Regions from separate parts of the Homo sapiens genome. Here region 1 is linked to region 2. The links come from fine-mapping of genetic effects on gene expression. A gene starts in region 2. The other region holds a variant in brackets. All regions are shown on one strand. Distances are between the middles of the regions. Region 1 overlaps VEZT (vezatin, adherens junctions transmembrane protein). Region 2 holds the start of VEZT (vezatin, adherens junctions transmembrane protein).

Region 1 (11,306 bases), 82 kb after region 2:
GATTCTCCTGCCTCAGCCTCCTGAGTAGCTGGGATTACAGGTGCCTGCCACCGCGCCTGGCTAATTTTTGTAGTTTTTAGTAGAGACAGGGTTTCACCATCTTGGCCAGGCTGGTCTTGAACTCCTGACCTCGTGATCCGCCTGCCTCAGCCTCCCAAAGTGCTGGGATTACAGGCATGAGCCACCGCGCCCGGCTGGTGCCTGCTTCTTTTATCTCAGACTTCTAAGTCCGATCTGATGCAGGTACGTCGATTAGAGAATCCCAGGTCATTTACCTGAGCCTATACTGTAAGGATACTGCTTGGGTAAGCAAGCATCCTACCCTCTCTGTCTTAGAGATAGGGAGAACCATAAGGTGGGGTGTTCCCTAATCCTAGGAAGAATGTTCAAACTTCCTGGGAAATCTGAAAGAACCACAAGAAAACAAACATGCCTGACCACCTCCCCAAAGTGCCAGCCCTTCTAATTTTGATTGGTTTTGATATAGCTAATGGCTGTAACACTAAGTGTATGGTATGTTACCAGAGTAGAAAAATAACTACTGAAGTTGTTAAACTTTTTTTATCCACAATGCTTTTTAGTATCAACTGTTAGGTTGTTTTTGAAGATTTCAATTTATCCATAGGTATATATTTGCTTTTTTCTTTTCCTAGCTCTGCTTTAATGACCTGTGCCAAATGCAAGTCCTTTTTTTTTAATCTCAGAGATAAGTAAGTGCAAGTAAATGAATGCTTACTAGAGAATTGTTTGCTTCAAGTAAAGTGCTTTTTCTTCTATTCATTTTCAGGAATTAGAAGCTTATGTAGATGATATAGATATTGATAGTGATTTCAGAAAGGATGATTTTTATTACTTGTCTCAAGAAGACAAAGAGAGACAGAAGCGTGAGCATGAAGAATCCAAGAGGGTGCTCCAAGAATTAAAATCTGTGCTGGGATTTAAAGCTTCAGAGGCAGAAAGGCAGAAGTGGAAGCAACTTCTATTTAGTGATCATGGTAAGCACTGACTTTAAAGTAACAGGTTATTTCAATGTAGGGGATTCTTTCTTTCTTGAACCATGAATGTTATTTTAGCTGAAGAATTCTTGGGGTTTTATAAGGGTCCACCAGTATGCATAGTACTTTTTCTTCTAGATGCTAAATCAATTTGATTAATAAAAGAGTAGGAATGTAACCACATTGGAAATATGAAGTCATACTTTTTTATGAGTTATTTAATTTTTTAGTAAATTTGTTTTAGAATGGGCAGTGAGTTGAATAATTTGGGATATTTTAAATGTTATTTTCAAATTTAGTGAATTTGAGATTCTCAACTCTGTTGTCCATATGTTAAAATATTTAAAAATACCTCAGTGAAGCACAAAATTAATAACTGTGCTCACATTGAAAAAAATGGCCCAGGCGCAGCGGCACATGCTTGTAATATCAGCACGTTGGGAAGCTGAGGCGGGTGGATCATTTGAGGTCAGGAGTTCAAGACCAGCCTGGCCAACATGGCGAAACCCCATCTCTACTAAAAATACAAAAATTAACAAGGCATGGTGGCGCGTGCCTGTAGTCCCAGCTACTCGAGAGGCTGAGGCAGGAGAATCACTTGAACCCGGGAGGCGGAGGTTTCAGTGAGCCAAGATCACGCCACTGCACTCCAGCCTGGGCAACAGAGGGAGACTCCATCTCAAAAAGAAAAAAAGAAAGAAAAGAAAAGAAAAGAAAAAAAAGGAATTAAAACCTAGACCAGTGAGCCACATCATTAGCATTATTTAAGTGGTTTGAGCACTTTAGTAGATGGGAGGGGAGCAGGGTGCCTGTGGGCGTACTCCCCATACTCTGATTTCAGCAGAGTGGGGTAGCTGGTAATACAAAAGCCTTACATTCCTTTCTGTTTCTCACCCTTCTTTTCTTAAGTCAAACTTCATGGGAGACAGGGAAGGAATCAGGGGAAGCTTAATACTTGACAGTATCAACCTAGCTAATTCTTAGTTGAATTAATGCCTATGGATTTCTAAGTAGGTAGAGTGTGGATTCTCTTCCATTTTACAGTATCTGTGTGGACCCTCGAAATCAACTGCCCTGCTTTTCCCTCCTCACTAGAAGTACATAGATTACCTATACTTCTGGAAAGTTCCTCCAGTTCTCTTTTTTTTTTTCCCCTCAGGAGCCCTATGTTTTCTCCTGTCCAGATCTGCATTTCTTGGTTTTATCATTCCTCTTTCTTCCCATTGGCCCCCTTTATAGCCCAGGTCCTCAGTAGATTATCCTTGTACATTAAAATACCTTCTTAGCTGACTTCCATTTTCAGTACTTTTTTCTTCTAAGCTATCTTGCAAACTCTTTGCAGATTTTTCTCCAACACTGCATTGATGATGGCTCTCTATCTTAAAACCTATAGTGGTTTCTCCCTTTCTTATTGTGTTGAATCTAAACTCTTTTTCCTGTTTTCAAGTCTCTTCATCATAAGAATTCATCTATCCAATTATATTTTCTACTGTTTTTACTATAGATATCTTCTTATGTTTATCGAATTAAACTACAGTTCACAAATGTGTTATTTTTATTCATGAAAAAAATTCATGCTGGCCAAGCACAGTGGCTCACGCCTCTAATTCCAACACTTTGGGAGGCCAAGGCAGGTGGATCACTTGAGGTCAGGAGTTCAAGACCAGCCTGGCCAACATGGCGAAACCCCCTCTCTACTAAAAATACAAAAATTAGCCAGGTGTGATGGCGCACACCTATAATCCCAGCTGCTCTGGAGGCTGAGGCAGGAGAATCGCTTGAACCTGGGAGGTGGAGGTTGCAGTGAGCCGACATCGCACCACTGCACTCCAGCCTGGGTGACAGAGTGAGACTCTCTCTCAAAAAATAATAATAATAATAATAATAATAATAATTCATGCTTACCCCTTTACCAAGAATTCTGCCTTCTCCACCAAGCTGTCCTCTCTACTAGTCTCTCCTTCTCCATGAATCCTTCTCTGAGTGCTCCAGCTCTGCCGCCTCTCCTAACACTACAGACCCTCACACTAGAGGAACATTGTGATAAAATATAAAGGAAGTCTTGAACCCCAAAGCATATAGCAGAGAAGGGAAATGATTAACAGATTGATTTCCTGCAATCTGTTCATTCATATACTGGGCCTACATACATCAGAGATTAATTTTAGGCACTGTTGTTTTCTATATGTTCAGGGTTTTGTTTTGTTTTGTTTTGTTTGTCTCTGTAACAAAATTACAGTCTTCTTAAATAGGGGCCTTATTATCCCACAGCATTCATTCAGCAAATTACTCATTCAACAAGTAGTTATTAGGTACTTGTTATATGTCAGGCACTGTTTACTGCTGTATCCCTAGCGCAAAGATCAAGAGACAAAATGTAAAGCCTCCTACCTGCCTCAAGGCTTAAATTCTAACACACTCGTCAATTGATCCTCTCATTACTCAGATTATATCCACCCCATTTAATTAGTAATAATTGTGAACTATCAACCAACTTCTAATATATGTTGCTTCCTTTAAGAGCTAACAGATTTATAAACTAAGAATGTACATATATTGAAAATAGCATTGTATATAAACTTATATCCTTTTTTATTGTTTAGTGTTTCTTCATATAGCTTTAAAATTATGCTATTGACATTATGGGAAAGATTTATCAATGAGAGAAATGTGTCTCTTTTTCAGGTATGTGCTTTTGATATAGTTTACATTGGAAAGGGTCATAATGCTGTTTTAGTTTGTGAAAATAAGTAAAAAGCTGCTGATACCATAGAATGCTTTTCCCATGAAAAATTTCAGTACATCTTCCAGAGCTGTTTTCATCTCTGCCTACAGGGGTAAAGTCCGCATGGAATTAGAGGGGGAAAGTCTGCACTGGAACCTGCTGTGGCCATTTTTTTTCTGTTGTTGCTGCTTCTCTAGTGGAGTTACTGCAGCTTAGGGATGGTTCCTGGAAGTGGACACATTTTACAAAAACGTTTTTTAAATACACGCCAGCTCTTCGAGAAGCACTTTTTTCCTTCCGTCATGCTTCATACTATATTGTATTGTACTAACCCCTCATGCTGGGATGAGCGACTGCCTAGCAAGCAACCCACTGCCTACTAACATCAAGAGGGGCTAAATAAAACTGCATTTTCCTTGCAAGGACAACTTCTACCGTATGAATATATATTATATTTATGTATTATATTTTGTACAATAGTTGATCTTGAATGCAGACTTCATTTGTATTTTTCGTGGTACTACAAAATGTGTAGAAGTTATGGCTTTTCTTTCATTAGGGTCTTGTTAGGTGGTTGGCAAGTAAGTTAAATTGTATGTTGCATTTTTTTCCATGCTGTTTTAACTTGTAAATATATATGTATACATATGGAAGATATTATTATTATCTAGATTACTTTAAGCCTTTTATCTGATGTATTATCAGTGAAAACCATGCTGCTTATTCCCTAATACAATGGTTCTCAAACTTTAGTGTGTATCAGAATCAAGATGAGGGCTTGTAAAATATAGCTGGTCCCTACTCCCAGAGTTTCCATTTCAGGAGGTCTGGGATCAGGCCCAAGAATTTGCATTTTTAACAAATTCCTAGGTGATAACTGATAATGTTGGTTCAGGGAACACACTTTCAGAACCACTGCTTTAATATTTTAAATAAGATAATATGTGAGGTGTCATAAAAACCTTCATCAAATCCCTATCTCATTTCATTTCTTAGGCATTTTCTCTCTTATAAAGTTTCCTGGATTTATAAATTTTCATTGATTTTACTAGAAAGTTTTATTTAGCTTTTATTTATTTATTGTTCTTTTTAAGAAAAAAACTGAGAGTTTGAATTAAAAGTTTAAATCATTGCTAGGTCCTTAGTTATTTTTTTTCTTTTTTCTTTTTTTTTATTTGAAGCCGTGTTGAAATCCTTGTCTCCTGTAGACCCAGTGGAACCCATAAGTAATTCAGAACCATCAATGAATTCAGATATGGGAAAAGTCAGTAAAAATGATACTGAAGAGGAAAGTAATAAATCCGCCACAACAGACAATGAAATAAGTAGGACTGAGTATTTATGTGAAAACTCTCTAGAAGGTAAAAATAAAGATAATTCTTCAAATGAAGTCTTCCCCCAAGGAGCAGAAGAAAGAATGTGTTACCAATGTGAGAGTGAAGATGAACCACAAGCAGATGGAAGTGGTCTGACCACTGCCCCTCCAACTCCCAGGGACTCATTACAGCCCTCCATTAAGCAGAGGCTGGCACGGCTACAGCTGTCACCAGATTTTACCTTCACTGCTGGCCTTGCTGCAGAAGTGGCTGCTAGATCTCTCTCCTTTACCACCATGCAGGAACAGACTTTTGGTGGTGAGGAGGAAGAACAAATAATAGAAGAAAATAAAAATGAGATAGAAGAAAAGTAAGAACCAAGATTCATATGAAGTGATATTAGATTGTTCCTTTTACAAAAGTGTTTAGCTTCAAGACTGGAAAGGGAATATGAGTGTAAGTTTACTATAT[A/G]TAAAGCTAAGATGTGGATTTACAGGAAGAACCCTGGTTTGAATAACTGATCTGAAATTAGTAGTTACCTGTAAATGGCAGATCTTTTAGGAAAATAAGAGAAAGGTAAGGGCTCTTTTGAATAAACTGCTGTTTTATTTGTGGCACAACTGATCAATCTTGGAAATTCTTTAAGTATTTTTAATAAGAAATGAATTATCATTTCTTGCCAGAATTTGCTACCTTAAGGTGATTGGGAAAATTCTGTTGCAAGAACATTAACATTTAGTATGACTCCTTTTTACTGTATTCTTGCAGTTAATAACTGCAGCTATTATGTTAATAACAAGTTGTTTGTATTTTATTTTTGTTTATACCAGTCTTAAAGATCCAGGTTCTGAATAAAAAAATTAATTGATACAATTGATGTGTGCTGGGGTTTGGAACTAAAAGTAGTTTCAACAGTGCGTGGGTTATGACATTTCTTATGTTTCTTTGTTCATGTGTGTATTTAGTAGTTAATTTTAAGATGTCCTAGTGATCTTTAAAAGAAAAATATTGTACCATTTTTTAGAATTACACTTTCACCTTTCTTTTTGCAATTGAAAGTGATGATGTCAAAGTGGGATTTCTGTACTCCAAGGCCCCACCCCCAATTTAGCAAGCAGAAAAACGTTCCTTGTATCACTTTACCTTGGATAATTGGGTGCCATTAACACAAACAGGTCACAATCCTGCTGTTTTCTAGCCCTGTCCACCATAATGAGATTCAGGAAACATCCTGTCAGCCTCCTGGAAAGCATCCTTGTCTCCTTAGTATTTCATTTACAAACTACCTCTTAACAGAGACTGCTTTTCAAATTGGCCAATCTTACCTGTTTTGTGTTGTGATTGCATTTTCAAAGAGTAATTATTTTCAGCATATACAGTTTTGAAACCTGTAGCTCCTATGCAATAACATAGTTCTATAGACATTATTTGGGGGAAATGTAGTAATAACTCAATCTATGTTGCTGTCCTAGAAAGGAAATTGCATGATGAATCTAGATTGTCTTTAGAGTAAAGAAACACATTCAAATTCCTGTAACTTATCACTTTCAGTGAGTAAATTTACTTATACCAAAGGGGATTTTTTTTCTTTCAGGAATCTAAGGAAATTTACTTTTTAACCTGAGAAAAAAACTTGGTTCTGCTTTATATAAACAGTAGAGATTATTGTACTATAAGTGATTTTGCCTTTTTGCCAAAATCCTGGAACTCATCTATAATTAACCTCTTCGGAGCAATACCTTAGGTTGGGCCTTGCTTTACTACTTAGAAATAGCTAAATTTCAATTTTAAAAATCTTTGTGTGTTATAACTGTTAAATTATTCAATAATACTTAGGGTTTACTTTCTTATTTAAATCACTTATTTAGTTTACCGACTTCATTTTTCTTTGGATTTAGAAGAAGCAATTATGGAAAAACTTGGTAATCTCTCTCAACCTATAACCTTACACAGGAAGAATTAGAGTTTAATAATTTTTAATTCTTTTATTGTATGTTACTTTTATTACACCAGTTTGGGGGAAAATCTTCATAAAATTGTATCAGTTTTATTCAGTGTTCTCTAAGGTGATACCTTTTAATTTTGAAAGACTAAATAATTTTAATCGAGAATTTCCAGTCTTTCAGTCTGATCTATTTAATTCACTACTTGTTACATAATCCAGTGAAAACTCTACTTGTTGAAATTATGACATAAAGATCTTGCAGCTTTATTTGAGTATTTGTTCTTTTGTGTAGTTTCCATCTTTTAAAATATTTAAAATATTTTCAAGATAAAGTATTATCTTCTCTGCAAAAATTCCTGGAGTAATTTTCTCTCATAATATTTGAAGTCAGTGGTTCTCAGTTGTATTAGTGGGGTAACTACATCAAAATAAATAAAGTCTTATTTTTAAAATGCAAATTTTAGACCATACTCCCAGTGATTCTTAGTTGGTCTTTTTGGAATGAGCCATAGGTAATGTTTATGTCCAATAAAATCTAGGAACCTCTGTCTGGAACTTTGCTCTTCTTGCCATGAATACCTTAGGAAGTATTAAAAAACAGGCCAATGTAATATGAGTAGGTTTTCTTGTTTGTTACTTTTCTAAGAATATTTTACTTCCCTTAGCAGGCTTTTGGCTAGCTTTCAAAGCTGCCACCCTGGCCAGGTGCGGTGGCTCACGCCTGTAATCCCAGCACTTTGGGAGGCCGAGGCAGGCAGATTGCCTAAGCTCAGGAGTTCGAAACCAGCCTGGGCAACATGGTGAAACCCCGTCTCTACTAAAAATACAAAAAATTAGCTGGGCATGGTGGTGGGTGCCTATAGTCCCAGCTACTCGGGAGGCTGAGGCAGGAGAATGGCGTGAACCTGGGAGGCAGAGCTTGCAGTGAGCCGAGATCGTGCCACTGCACTCCAGCCTGGGCGACAGAGCGAGACTCCGTCTCAAAAAAAAAGCTGCTACCCTATATACAGAAGAAGCCCTCTGGGGAAAAAAATAAAACACTGCAGGGAAAACTTATAATTGTGCTTTTTAAGTTTTACAATATGATTTTTAACAGTATGATTCTTGTTAGGAGTATCATCCTGACAGTTTTTAATACAGATATTTCTGTAGTTTGTTTTACCAGGACAAACCTAGTACTTAATGGAAGAATGCATGTGAGAGTCTATTTAGGTCACTCTTGAAGACAGAATTTGTACCCTTTGTCTACCTCCAGGTAGGAAAGTCCATTTAAAACTCAATTTTCTTAATAGTAATATTCTGATTTACGTAAGAAAAGTTATAAAGCTTTTAGTGTTAAAGCATTAAAAAAATCAAGTCCTGATACATTCCACAAAATTGTAAGTCAGTGGAGTGTTTACAGATCATTTCACTCTGGTGACTAACTCTTCACTTCCTATCAGTAATGTAAAATATGAAAAAGTTCAACTGATTTGGTTTAATCATAGTATATTGTTCCTATACCCAAAACAAACAAAGAAACAGACTAAATACTATAAGAGTGTATTATAGCTCAGCTAAATCATTGTTTGAACTAAAGTAGATATTATGCTAAGAATGACAACCAGACAAGGCATAAAGGTTGGTTTATTTTTCCAATTCTACTTACAAGAAAATAGTTATGCAGTTCACAATTAGAAAATAAAGCTACAAATATTTTAGAAGAGAAAATATAGAAAAAAAATGCAGTAACCATTTATCTGTCATCATAGACAGGTGATTAATTTGCCTAAGTTAACTTCTCAGCTAACTAAAACAAATCCATTTTAATAATTTAATAACTAAATGCACTACTTCTCTACTTTGTCTAGAGTATATAGAATATAATTTAACTTTTTCTGTCATCTTTAGGAATATCAGTTTCTATCATGGGGTGATAAACAGAAACTCATCCTCAGGGGCTACTGAGATATATGTCAGGTACCCCTTTACAACATGACCTCACACTGGTGTGCTTTTTTCAGTTATGTCTGTTTTTCACAGTTTCTCTATCTTCCCTTATAATCAGCTGTCACTTTTGCCGCCGTCTTGTGTGCCTGCCTCCTGCAATAGGTCCCTAATTTGCTGCTTCTAATCTGCTGTGGACTGAGAAACCAGATTGCCAAGCTTGCTAGAATTGTGTCTAAAATAAGAGTAAGTAGACTGAAAGAGAGCTAAGGGGCTTTTCTGTCAGTAAAGTGCATGGACTTTGTGATACCTGCTTGACTGCTTAGCATTGTTTTGTTTGCCTCTTAGTTCTTTACTAAAAACTTGCTAAAACAAATACTTGGTTGAATATGTGATTGCCATATATTTGAAGTTCTAATTCAGTTTTTATATAATGATGTTTCTAGGACTTCCATTAATGAATTCAACTATAAGAGAAATTTGACTATCATTTTTGAATAAATAATTGTGTATATTTCAGAAAAATGTTAAACGTATTGTTATCATTAATTGTTCTTAGTACAGTACACAGATTTAAAACTTATGGCACTATAAATGTAACTTCAACTCTGTTCATCAAGACTTATGTTCTAGAAATATTGTTATGAGACTAAAGATGGCTAATTTAGTAAGAACTGGGTAACTTGAATATTTGGGGAATGAGTCATTCTAGATATCCCAGTTTCCTGCAGAGCTTGAACCTCTTTCAGCCCTAAAATTTTTTGGAATAATCTCTGAAGGAAATCTTCATAAAATTGATATGCATTACTGTCTTAAATAATATATGAATGTATTTTAATTTGTTTGGTATCAAAATGATCAGCATTAACATCACTTATTATAATCTGATAGACTAATCAGACATTGAGAGCTGTTTGTCCCTGTACTAAATGGCTCCATTCTGCTGTACTCGTTTTAGTTTTCATGTCTTTAACAGTCGTTCTGATTCTTCCATTTCTATTACTGCTTGCTTAAGTGTGCCTGTAGCAGTAGCCCTTCTCCACCTTCATAATGTGCCTTCTGATCTGCTTTCATTTTGGAGACCAGACAAACTAAGTTTATTAGACTTCTGTGTAAAGTAAGAATAAATAAACTCAAAGTGAAGACTTGAGGAAGTGGATTATGCTTAAATGCATGGATTTTGTGACATCTGTTACTTTACTACCTGTTTCATTGCTATCGTTAAAATAAGTGAAGCTACCGAATTAGATACCTGCTCTCAAAATAGAAAAGTTGTTATGGTACAAAAGGAACTATTTTGTTTACATACTTTACTTTCTCTAAAGTTAGTTCTATACTAGAATTATTTGGCGCTGATTAAAACTGGTCCACTCAAGTTAGCATTTTCTATAGTATTTTCTATTTGAATTGGAGACTACATGCTGTTAAGAATTTCTTTGGCTTTTTTTTTGTTGTTGTTTTGTTTTGTTTGAGACAGAGTCTCACTCTGTTGCCGAGGCTGGAGTGCAGTGGTGCAATCTCGGCTCACTGCAAGGTCCGCCTCCCAAGTTCACGCCATTCTTCTGCCTCAGCCTCCGGAGTAGCTGGGACTACAGGCGCCCGCCACCACTCCGGCTATTTTTTTGTATTTTTAGTAGAGATGGGTTTTCACCGTGTTAGCCAGGATGGTCTCGATCTCCTGACCTTGTGATCTGCCGTCCTTGGCCTCCCAAAGTGCTGGGATTACAGGCATGAGCCACAGCGCCCAGCCGGCTTTTTTTTTTTTTTTTTTTTTTTTTTTAAGAGAGAAATGTATCTTCATTTCCAAGACATGAAAATAGATTAAGCCCTGAAAAATAAGAAAACATTCACTATTAATGTCACAGAGACCTGAGAAGTAATAAAATTTATAGACTATAGGCAATTATACCACAAAGAATTTATTTTTTGATTATGCTAGTTTTAAAAACAGGGTCTTTATTTTTATTCAGCTATAGTAAGCGGACGTTAAAAGCTTACCAAAAGTTATCAGTGTTAGATCTAATGATATTGGCAGATATTTGAATGACTAAATTCCCACTGTCATTCTGTACTGGGCATGATTAAATTGTAATTTAATATTTAATAATTAAGCAGGATCACTTTTCTCTCTTGAATGAAAAATAAAATTTGCACACTATAATATTTACAAGTAAAAGTCAAATCTGTATAGAAATGGATATCCTAGCATCAAACAACTTATTTTTAGCAACATGCTGATTATTTTAGTAACCATATATTGACTCATGTTTTCATTACAAAGTAACTGTCAAATCAGTCTGTTTATTTTATGACCATGCCTCATAGTCGGCATTCAGTTATCCATGCTAATGGAAGGGATCTGTGGTATAATAATCATAAAAGATAAGTGGTCCAGGCTG
Region 2 (11,306 bases):
CGACTGTCAAGTTGATTTTATTTCTGTAACCATTATCAAAACATCCTACCTCTGGGATTTTTCAAAGAATTTTTTAAAAATTAGTTTTGGCAGCCTGGCATAGTGGCTCATGCCTGTAATCCCAGCACCTTGGGAGGGCAAGGTGGGAGGATTGCTTGAGCTCAGGAATTGGAGACCAGCCTGGGCAACACAGTAAGACTCCGTCTCCATGAAAACAAAAAAAATAGTTTCGTAAAATGAAGAGTTCTTGAGATTGGATGTACCATGTGAATGTACTTAACACTTCTGAACTATACACTTAAAAATGAGTAAGACGGTAAATTTATCTTATGTGCTATTTTACCACAGTTGGAAGAAAACTTCATCTCTCATCAAATTAATCTTTTACTTTCCGTATCTTAGAACCTTGTCAGAAGCTTTAGGGTCATTTAAATATCATTTTTAAAAAATCCCTGGTACCAATTTTACTCTTTTTAAAAAATGCGTTTTGTACACAAATCTGCTTCCAAGAGATATAAATTCCTGTTCTAGTGTCACAGAAATTCAATTAACTACGTATGTGCTGGAGTTGATTCCCAATAAATATAGCAAAGTCCTATTACGTACATAAAACCCTCAACGCATACTCACTGAATTCAATTAATAACTGTGAACTTGGGCTTGCCATTGTTAGTTAACTGTGTATTGAAGGAAGTCACAGACATAACTCAGGGAGCTGGCTAACCTAATTGTGGGCCTTGTACAGACCTGGCTGCCTCACTTTCCTTCCTTATAAATGGGGGAGTTGAACAGGCCTCTAAAGCCCATAGGAATCTGAGATGATAACTTCTGAGACACTCATTTCAGAAGAACCTCATGTACTGTGGCCTCTGTCTCCTGCGTTGATGTTTTTTCAGTTCACCTTTGTCTGTGTTCAGCATAAGACACAAGCTCCAGAAGGGCAGGCACTTTGTCTCATTCACTGATGTATCCCAGTGCTAACAACAGGGCCTGGGAATAATCACAGCTGCCACATACACATACTCTTTAATATGTCTCCATAACAGAAAATTTCTTCTTTAAAAATAATCACATTCAAAAATGTACATCCATTTTAATGTAGAATAATATTTTGAAAAGTTAGCAGGAATCAATTTCAATACGATTATTGAAAAATTCCTTAATTATTAATAGGAACAAGTGTTCAACTAAGTCACTGGTAGAGCAATATCCAAAATCCTTCATTATTTTTTTTTCATGGCTCTATTTTGGAAGAAACACAACTCAAAAAATAATAAGCCATTATATTATGGTCTACTCCAATGTGAAATAAGTGCATGACATTTGGCAATAAATCTAGCACCTTTGGATCTTAATACTGCATCAACAGTCAGACCCAAAGCTTCTTAGAGCAAAGCAGCAAATCTTTTATTTACACAGCTGTTTGGCTCCAGGGAAATATAAGGTAAGAAAGTAAAGCACTAGTACCATTTTACTAACTATTACAAACATACTCGTCATCTGTTACACACAGATGGCTGTGGTTCACGTGTACACTCTCTGGCTACTGGACCAGCCAAAACGCAAAGCACAGACAATGAAGACAGTGACCTGTACATGTTCAAAAGGACACAAAATATATACCTATATATACCTATAATTCTCTCTCCTTTTTTCTTTTTTTTTTTTTTTTTTTGAGATGGAGTCTTGCTCTGTCACCCAGGCTAGAGTGCAGTGGCTCGATCTCGGCTCACCACAACCTCCGCCTCGCTGGCTCAAGCAATTTTCATATCAGCCTCCCGAATAGCTGGGACTACAGGCGCACCCCACCACACCTGGCTAATTTTTGTATTTTTAGTAGAGACAGGGTTTTGCCATGTTGGCCAGGCTGGTCTCAAACTCCTGACCTCAAGTGATCCACCCGCCTTGGCCTCCCAAAGTGATGGAATTACAGGCTTGAGCCACTGCGCCCAGCCTCTCCTTTTTCATATACAGCTTAAAATAATTCTGAAATCTCCACTAAGGGCAGATTATTTTATAGATGTAGAAAAACAAAGCAAGCTTTTCTGCTGGATACATATAACCTAGATGTTCTACAACATTCCTTTTATTTTCTTAAATTAAACCAACCCTTCCAAATACCACAGATTAGATTCAAAAGCAAAAATCCCCTCCCTTAACTTCAAGTAACTTTCCTAAACGTTTCAATGAATTTGACTATTGTTCCCAAAAAGCACCATAATCAGCTTGTAAGAACTATGTATACATATAAGAATGGGTAGAAATAAAACCCCAGTTCTCTTCCATATTCCCCATCTAGACACCAGAAAGAATTATGATAAATCCAACAGATGGGTGAGCAAAAAAGTAGTTGATGCTTCTCAGCCAGCAATGCTAAAAACCAACCAACTCGGCTAGACACAGGAAGTGTCCCACTTTAAACACCACAAAAATTTCTGTGGATTTCTTTAATTGTAAAGTTGATAAAATACAAAAATAGCTTGCATTATTTTAGGATAATTCAAATGCAAGAATCATGAACTTCCAGTCTGGGCCCTAGAAATTGGGTTTACATAAATGTGAAATTACATGCTTCTGTGCCTGTTCCTTATAAACTGTTAAGACTGGAATTGAAAACTGATACATATAAGACACGGTTATTTTAAATACATTTGACACCTCCAAAAAGGAAAGAGCTAAAACTGGCTGGAAGGATTTTAAAATTTCCAACCACTTTTAATTTAAATCAATTTCTTGAACGAAGGTAAGGCACAGAAATGTAGGATGAAAATAATTTACCTTATGTAAGTATAAAGCCTCCCTTTGGCAAAGAAAAGAGAGTTTATAAAGATATCTCATATAAGTGCATATAACATCAAAAAGGAAAGACCCACACAACACCCACTTCTTGCTTTCTTTTCCTATTGGCTAACTTCTTGTTTCGTTTGTTGTAATCTGATCACAGGGAGCAATGCAACACTACAATATATCTAGGCTTTAGAAATAATACAAATCAGAACATTTGAGTGCTGTTGGACAGTTTCAAGTTGCAAGAATTTTAAACAAATGCCAAGAAAAGCAATGAAAATTTAATCTGATACTTAAGTGCTGATTCTGGAAGTAACCTTGAGAAGAAGCTTTAAACTATTTCACTATAAAATTTCTAATGAAAGTTTCAACGTGGACAAAAACGTAAAATAACCCATAACACTCTACTTAATACATAAGTTCTGGTTTAAAAATTAACCTATGTACTTACGAAGTGAACGTAACACCACTTTGGTAATTATTTTGTAAAACAGAAATTGTTCCTTAAGAATGTTCAGAAACACAACGTCTAGAATTGCTGAAAATCCACACAAAGATAGAGGCTTTGTCATTTGGATGAAGGGGAAAGAACTATGGGAGGCAGACAGAAAATAAAGCTTTGTTTACCCTAATCAGGTAGAAACAAACAAAATAATTGTAATTGGGTGCAGACAAGCAAAAAAAAAAAAAAAAAAAAAACCTCAACAATCTCAACTCCTCTGCTTCTCAGGTAACAGAGGTAAAACCACCAGGACATGACAATGTCTACGCCTCTTTAAAATGGGTAAAAGGTTTACCAGCAGATACAAGGTTGAAAGCGACTCACTTAGTGGCCAAATTGAACACGCTGAGAACACTGCCTTTACCTATAATAACTGATCTATTAACTTGGGAATCTACACTATTTTCACATGCAAAGGCGAAGTCCTCGCACTGCTGGAGAGATGAGCGAACGCCCTTCACACATCGCATTTCACCTGGTGCAGAGCCCCCAGCACAGTCCCCCTTGGAAGGGAGATCCCGAGAAATCCCGGGTTTCCAAACAGCCCCTCTGGGCAGGAAAAGACGAGAAAGCCGGCAGCGAATCCCATTAGCTCCGCGCTTGCCGAGGTGCTCGGCAAAGGTACGGGGCACACAACTCGCCCACCCCGGCGAAGAAAGTTGCTCGCGAGCCCAAGCCTAGCAGCGCTCGCCACAAACTTTCCCGCGGCAGCGCGAGCGCCGTCACTTACCGGCTGCAGAAGTCATGATTCCCCGGTGCAGCTCGCTTCCCCGCTCGGCCCCTCAATCCATCTTCCCCTTTCAGTCCATTGTTCCCACAGTTCGGGTAGGAGAGAAAAGCCCCCGCAGCGCCCACATTCCGTCCCGCCGCCCCGCGGCGCAGCCTGAGCGCCACACAAAGGACGCGGCCGACTCTAGCGACCCTGCGGCGCTCCCGGGCGCGAGCCGCCGGGGTCGGGCGGGCGAGCACTAGCACCGCCCCGCAGAGCGGCAGGCTGACAGCCAGGCGCGGGCACGAGCAGTGCTCTCTTCGGCTCCGCTGGCGCGTGCCCTTCTCGGGCTCCAAAAATCAGCAGTGCTCCGGGCGCCCCCTGCTAGTCGCGGCCGTAAAAGGCAGACAAAAGCCCTAGCCTCCTCCAATCGGAGGGCTCGAGCTTCAGCTCGCTCCCGCCTCTCTCGCTTACACGCTCACTCTCTTCTCCAATAAGCGGGCTCGAAAAGGGGGCGTGAGCGGCGAGGCATATTGGGAATTGTAGTTTTCTGGACCCACGGGACGGGCAGGAGCTGGAGCTCCGTGCCGCCTGTACTCCCGCCTTCATTTCCCATCGTGCTGAGGCGGGTGGCATGGCGGAGAAGGATGACACCGGAGTTTGACGAAGAGGTGGTTTTTGAGGTAAGAGGAAAATGGCGGTGGGTGTGGATTGCCTTTGTTTGAGAAGGACGAGACGGAAATCGAGGAAGCAAGGCGTTCCCGGGGCGAGGGATCGGGTGACGCGCTCCAGCTGGCCTCGACCACCGAACCCCAGCGATTTCAGGGCCTAGAGTCCGTCGTCGCCTGACAGGTGTAGCCAGAGGCGCCCTGGCCGTGGCCGGCCTCTATCTCGGGCCCGCCCAGAATTCCCAGACGGTGCCCGGTTGCCAGGCTCTGGGCTGGAGCGGTGTCTCTTCCTTCCTGGGAATGGATGTGCGGCGGGGGGGACTGCGCCCGGCTGGGGCGGGGCCGAATCGTGCCTTTTAGATAGTCACAACTTAGCCTCCTCCTTTTCCATCCGCGATTTTTTTGGGTCAGTATCCAGAGTGCTTCAGGTCACTGTTCACCGTCAAGGCGTGGCCCTCGGAATGAAGGCAGCAGGTGCCCGTTTTCTAACACGGTTTAAAGTCTATTTGTGGGACCTACTGTGGGTAGTTAGGGCCAGGGCATCTCAGCATCTAGATTCGATTCTTTTGTCCTTTGCTGTTGCGCTAGGTGTAGCCAGTTCTTCTGACTCGGGGCTCTAGATGTGAGTGCTTTTGTGTGGGACTATTTTAAGACGTTCTCTGCCATCTTGAATGAAAAAAATCGGGCGAGTGTTTTTGATGCCATTTTTTTCCATCAGACACAGGTCAAAACTCGCACCCCTGTACGTATGTGTATTGCATGTATACGCTTTACTTTCATTTATCCAACTAGATTTTAAGAAAATTTAAAAATGAAGTGGCCCATGCCATACAGCGAGAGAGCGAGGCACAGACAGGACAGAATGCTAAATGTTGAAATATGTACAAACTGTCATTGAAGGATTAATTTCTGTTCTTGCGGCCTCCCAGAGGCTACACCCAGTACGCGATATCCGAGGTGAATCTTTAACTATGAATTGGATTAGAAAAACCGGCAGGAGAAAATGTATTACAGGGAAAGAGAACTGATTATGCCAAGCTTGGGAAGTGTGAAAGTACCTGGTGTGCATTTTTAGGGGGCGGGGTGTGGAGGGTGGCTATGTAAAGTGGCTTGATGTGGCTGCAATGAAGAAGCAGTGGAAAATGTGGCCATTTTACCGAAGTGAAGAGTCTAGATATGAGGCGTTCATTAGGGAAGACAAGGGCCTGAGATGAAATGAGAGACGTAATGGAATAATGGCTTGGACAGACACTTGTAAGTTAAAATCGAGGCAATGTTTATAGATTGAATGTGGTAGCTGAAGGAGAGAGAAATATTTTCTAGAGTAAGGGTAACTGATGGGTGTATTTTTTTTACCCATTATTTTTGATTTCTGAATATAATAGTAATATATGCTCAAGGAACATTTTATTGTAGAAAATAAGCCCCCAAGTTAAAATCATCCATTATCCCACCACCCAAAGATGGTAACTATTAACAGTACGGTATGTGTTCTTATAGACTTTATTTCTATGTAAATGTGTGTTTATGTGTGTGTAATTTTTTAGCCTCTATATTAAGACACAATGTGTGTGTGATATTTTTTAAAACAAAAGGTATACCACGTAGAATTTTGTATATATTTTTCACTTGACTTTATCGTGAATCTTTTCCCATTCATCATTCTCTGAAAACATTAATATTATAATATCCCCTCACGTGTATCATAATATAACCTTTTTTTAAAAAAATACCATTGTAATCAACAGTGATATAAGCCTATTTTTAACTACAACTCTGATTTTCCTCAGAATAATTTTTAGAAGTAGAACTAGTGGGTGAAAGAATATGAACATTTAAGACTTACGCAGAAAGGTTATACCAATTCCGGTTTCCATTAAGAATAAGAGAGTATTGGTTTCACCAAATCCTCAACAACAGCCTTAACAGTTTCCTTTAATCTTTGCTAATTTGATAGGCAAAAATAACATTCCATTGTTTTAATTTACATTTTATGCATTTATACATTTATTAGCTATTTTTATTTCTTTGAACATTTCTCTTCATATTTGTTGCTCATTTTCTTATTAGATGCTAGCTTTAAAAAAATTGACTTGCGTGAGTTCTTCATATATTACTAAGCCTTTGTCATACTTGCAGAAAAATTTCCAGTTTGCTGTTTGTTTGCTCTTTGATATACACAATTTTTATTGCAGTATAATTTACATAAGGACAGGGCACAGATCACAAGTGTGTGGATGGTTATATTTTCACATGTTGAGCACACCCATGTAACCAGCACCCAGATCAAGAAACGGGACAGATGGGGCATGGTGGCTCACACCTGTAATCTCAGCACTTTGGGAGGCTGAGGCAGATGGATCCCTTGAACCCAGGAGTTTGAGATTAGCCTGGACAACATGGTGAAACCCTATCTCTACAAAAAAGACAAAAATTATTTGGGCGTGGTGGCACATGCCTATAGTCCCAGCTACTCGGGAGGCTGAGGTGGGAGAATCACTTGAGCCTGGGTAGGTCAAGGCTGCAGTGAGCCATGATCGCACCGCTGTACTCCAGCCTGGATGACAGAGCCAGACTCTGCCCCAAAAAAATAAAAAATGAAAAAAGAAACAACATCACCAGCACACCAGAAGCTCCCTCCTGGTCCTTTCCATCACTACTCCCTACCCCAAAATGATCACTATTTAAACATAATAACCTAGATTAATTTTGTCTATTTTTATTGTTTAGACACTGTGCATTTCCATTTATATACTCTCTTATTTCTGACTTTTTTTTTTCCTCTCTGGCTTTATTTGTGAGATTCGTCCATATTGTTAACATGAGAATTTTTATTTTGGCATAGTATTCCATGTGAATATATGATCATTTTTAAATTCATTCTTCTATTAATGGTCATTGAGTAGTTCCCAGGTTTAAACTAGTGCTACTGTGAACCTTTTTGTATGTGTTTGGTTAAACATATTTCTGGTGGATATATATGTAGGAATGGAATTGCTGGGTCATAGCAAATACCTAGATATTTCTGTAGATATTGCCAAACTTTATTCCAAAGTGGTTGTACCAGTTTATTCTCCAGCCAGGAATGTATGAGAGGTCCCATTGCCCCACATCCTCATCAACCCTTGCTAATTTTAGTGTTTTTCTTTTTATGATTCTAGGGGCTATGTCCTGGTATCTCCTTGTGGTTTTAATTTGTATTTTCTTGATAAAGATGTTAAGATTTTTAATGTGTTTATTAGCCAATTGTATATCCATTTTGTGAAGCCACGTCAAATTTCTTGCATATTTTTCTATTGGGTTGTTTCTTTTTCTTGCTGATTTGAAGGAATTATTTACATACACTGGATACAAGTCCTTTGTTAGAGATGCAGTTGGCCCTCCTTAGCTGAGAGTTCCACATCTGCAGATTGGACCAACCGTGGCTCACGCCTATAATCCTAGCACTTTGGAAAGCTAAGCCAGGCAGATCACTTGAGGCTAGGAGTTTGAGACCAGCCTGGCCAACATGGCGAAACCCAGTCTCTACTAAAAAATACAAAAACTAGCTGGGCATGGTGGCATGCACCTGTAGTCCCAGCTACTCCAGAGGCTGAGGCATGAGAATCGCTTGAACCCAGGAGGCGGAGGTTGCTCTGGGTGACAGAGTAAGATTCCATCTCAAAAAAAAAAAATAAAGGAAATACTCTGGCCCAGTGAGGTGGCTCATGCCTGTAATCCCAGCACTTTGGGAGGCTAAGGTAGGAATATTGCTTGAAGCCAGGAGTTTAAGACCAGCCTGGTCAACATTAACAAAACCCTGCATATTAAAAAAAAAAAAGAAAAAAATTAACCAGGTGTGGTGATGCATGTCTGTAATGCCAGCTACTCCACAGCCTGAGGCAGAAGATTGCTTGAGCCCAGGAATTTGAGGCTGCAGTGAGCTACAATTCCAGCCTGGGTGACAGAGTGAGACCATATCTCTAAATAAATAAATAAATACTCAAAAATATTCAAAAAATAATACAAATAAAAAAACTATACAGGATAACAACTATTTACATAGTGTTCACATTGTATTAGGTATTACAAATAATCTAGAGATGATTTAAAATATGTGGGAGACTGTGTGTATGTTATATGCAAATACTATGCCATTTTATATAAGGGACTTGAGCATCCATGGACTGGGTATTTGCCCTAGTCCTGTGACCAATTCCCCATGAATAAAGAGACAACTGTATATACCTCATATATCTTACCTTGGGCTATATGTGGCCTCTGCACTCTTTTAATCGTGTCTTTCAATGAACAGAAGCTCCTTATTATAATCCAATTAAACCTTATTCTTTTGTGATTAGTGCTGTTAAAAAAATATTTGCCTACTCTAAGGTCACAAAGATATTTTCTTTAAAAGCTTTATTTGACATTTTCCCATTTAGATCTGTCATCCATCTGGTACTGATTTTTGTATGGTAACAAGTGAAGATCAACATTTTTTTTTCCCCGTATGGATGTCCAGTTGACCTGGCACCATTTACTGAACAGATCATTTTTTCCCCACTGAACTGTAGTGTTGCCTTTGTCATAAATCAGGGAATCTTTTATGTGTAGATCTCTTTCTGGACACTGTCTTCTTTGCCATTGATCATTTTGTCTATTCGTGTGTTAATACCACATTATTTTAATTACTATAATTTAAAAAATAGGTTTTAATATCTGATAGCATAAGACCCTTCAGCTGTATTTTTCTTCAGGATTGCCTTTGGCTATTCTTGGCCCATTATATTTCCATATAAATTTTAGAATCAGCCTGTCAGTTTTTGTAAAAAAATAAAAAATAAAAATAAAAAAACCCTACTGAGACTTTGATTGAAATTGCTTTGAAGCTATAAATTAATCTGGGGAAACTTAACATCTTTACAATCAATATTGAATCTTCCAATCCGTGAACATTTATTGCTTGCCTTCTAAATGAATCAAGCAACTTCTCATCTCGTTCTGTGCTCTAGGACTGATTTTACAAAATGAGAATTATCTGTTTCTTCAGAGTATAGCTAAATTGGCCTTTCCTGGGGAAAAGAGACTGAATGTTGTCTATCAGCTCAATTTCTTTTATGGTTATTGCTCAGGTACAATTTTCTATTTTGATAACTTTTTTATTCTGAAAGGCAGTGTAATATAGTTAAAGATATGGGCTCTGGAGCTGGATAACCTAAGAAATCCTAGGTCAGCTATTTATTAGTTATATTAGTTAATGTGACTTTGAGCAGGTTACTTAACTTGTCTAAGCTTCAGTTTTCTCCATATTAAATAAAAATAACAGTAACTATCTCGTAAGGTAGTTATGAGTACTAAATGATTTAATATAAGTGAATTACTTAGATGAGTACCTGACACATTGTAAACACTCAGTAAATGTTACCTTTTATTAAATTTTTCCAACAAATTGCTTTTTATCTAGGTTTTCAAAATTATTGATATATTCTTAGTAGTCTCTTTAGTTTCATTTATAGCACAAATTAGATCTGATTGTTGTTATGTTTTTCTTTTTGTTTTGCATAGATGTGCTGGAGTTTCAACTTACCAGATAGACTTTTCTTTTTTTTGAGACAGAGTTCCACTCTGTTAGCCTTGTCGCCCAGGCTGGAGTGCAATGGCAGGATCTTGGCTTGCTGCAACCTCTGCCTCCTGGGTTCAAGCAATTCTCCTGCCTCAGCCTCCCGAGTAGCTGGGATTACAGGCACCCATCACCATGCCCAGCTAATTTTTGTATTTCTAGTAGAGATGGGGTTTCACCATGTTGGCCAGGCTGGTCTTGAACTCCTGACCTCGGGTGATCCACCCACCTCGGCCTACCAAAGTGCTGGGATTACAGATGTGAGCCACCGTGCCTGGCCTCAGGTAGACTTTTCAAAAAACTAGTTGGTTTTGTTTGGTCAGTTCTATTGAATTTGTTTGTGGTTTTAAATTTTTTTAAAATTTCTACTTTTATCTATTTCCATTCATCTATTTGTGTTTATTTTGCTATTTTTGTTCTGTTTTTTTTAGCTTCTTGAGTTAAAAACCTAAATGCCCAAAATAACTTGTAAGGCTATAAATTTCCCTGAGTATTGCTTCAGTTGTATCACGAAAGTTTTGAAATGTAGTTTGTCTCATGGTTGTATAAGTTCCATTTTTATTTCTTATTTAATACCCAAGTATATAGTTGAGGGATTGATGTTATCATTGGTGATTATTTTTCTCCCTGTGTCCCTCAGACCCATAATTCCACCCTGATCATTATGGACTGCATCACTGCATTCCCTTGTCCTCTGGGTTCCATTTAGGTTCGGCCAGTGGGAAGGACCTGCAGATCAGAGGATGGAGGAAAGAGCGCCAGAGAGGTTTGGGTGTTTCTTGTCTGAATTCTTTCCCTCTACGGCTACTATTTGTTAGTGATTGCATTCCTGTACCTAAAGCCACAACTTTTTTTTTTTTTTTGACAGGGTCTTGCACTGTTGCCTAGGCTGGAATGCAGTGTTAACCATCATAACTCACTGCAGCCTCCAACTCCTGGCTCAGGTGATCCTACCACTTCAGCCTCTCAAGTAGCTGGGACTACAGGCAGGTGCCACCATGTCCAGCTAACCTGTAACTCTTATCACGGGATTCTTCTTGG

What was found. PIP is the estimated chance that this variant, and not a neighbour inherited with it, causes the effect.
Region 1: its variant is fine-mapped to the expression of VEZT in tibial artery (GTEx, PIP above 0.99). The same link has a PIP of 0.9 or more in atrial appendage.

Annotation. Positions count from the first base shown.
Region 1 is chr12:95,295,264-95,306,569 of GRCh38, forward strand. VEZT (vezatin, adherens junctions transmembrane protein) reads left to right here. Exons shown (of 12, transcript NM_017599.4): 11 at 788-995; 12 at 4,902-7,536. The coding sequence ends at 5,410. Among named protein-coding and RNA genes, the nearest start is that of MIR331, 7.5 kb to the right of the region's middle. The variant A/G (reference allele first, on the strand shown) is at 5,508.
Region 2 is chr12:95,213,206-95,224,511 of GRCh38, forward strand. VEZT (vezatin, adherens junctions transmembrane protein) reads left to right here and starts at 4,602. Exons shown (of 12, transcript NM_017599.4): 1 at 4,602-4,681. The coding sequence starts at 4,646. It overlaps FGD6 (FYVE, RhoGEF and PH domain containing 6), which reads right to left and starts at 4,262. Exons shown (of 21, transcript NM_018351.4): 1 at 4,020-4,262. The coding sequence starts at 4,035. RefSeq lists enhancers at 765-844, 3,926-4,520, 4,521-5,116, 4,581-4,820, 5,421-5,470 and a silencer at 4,121-4,350.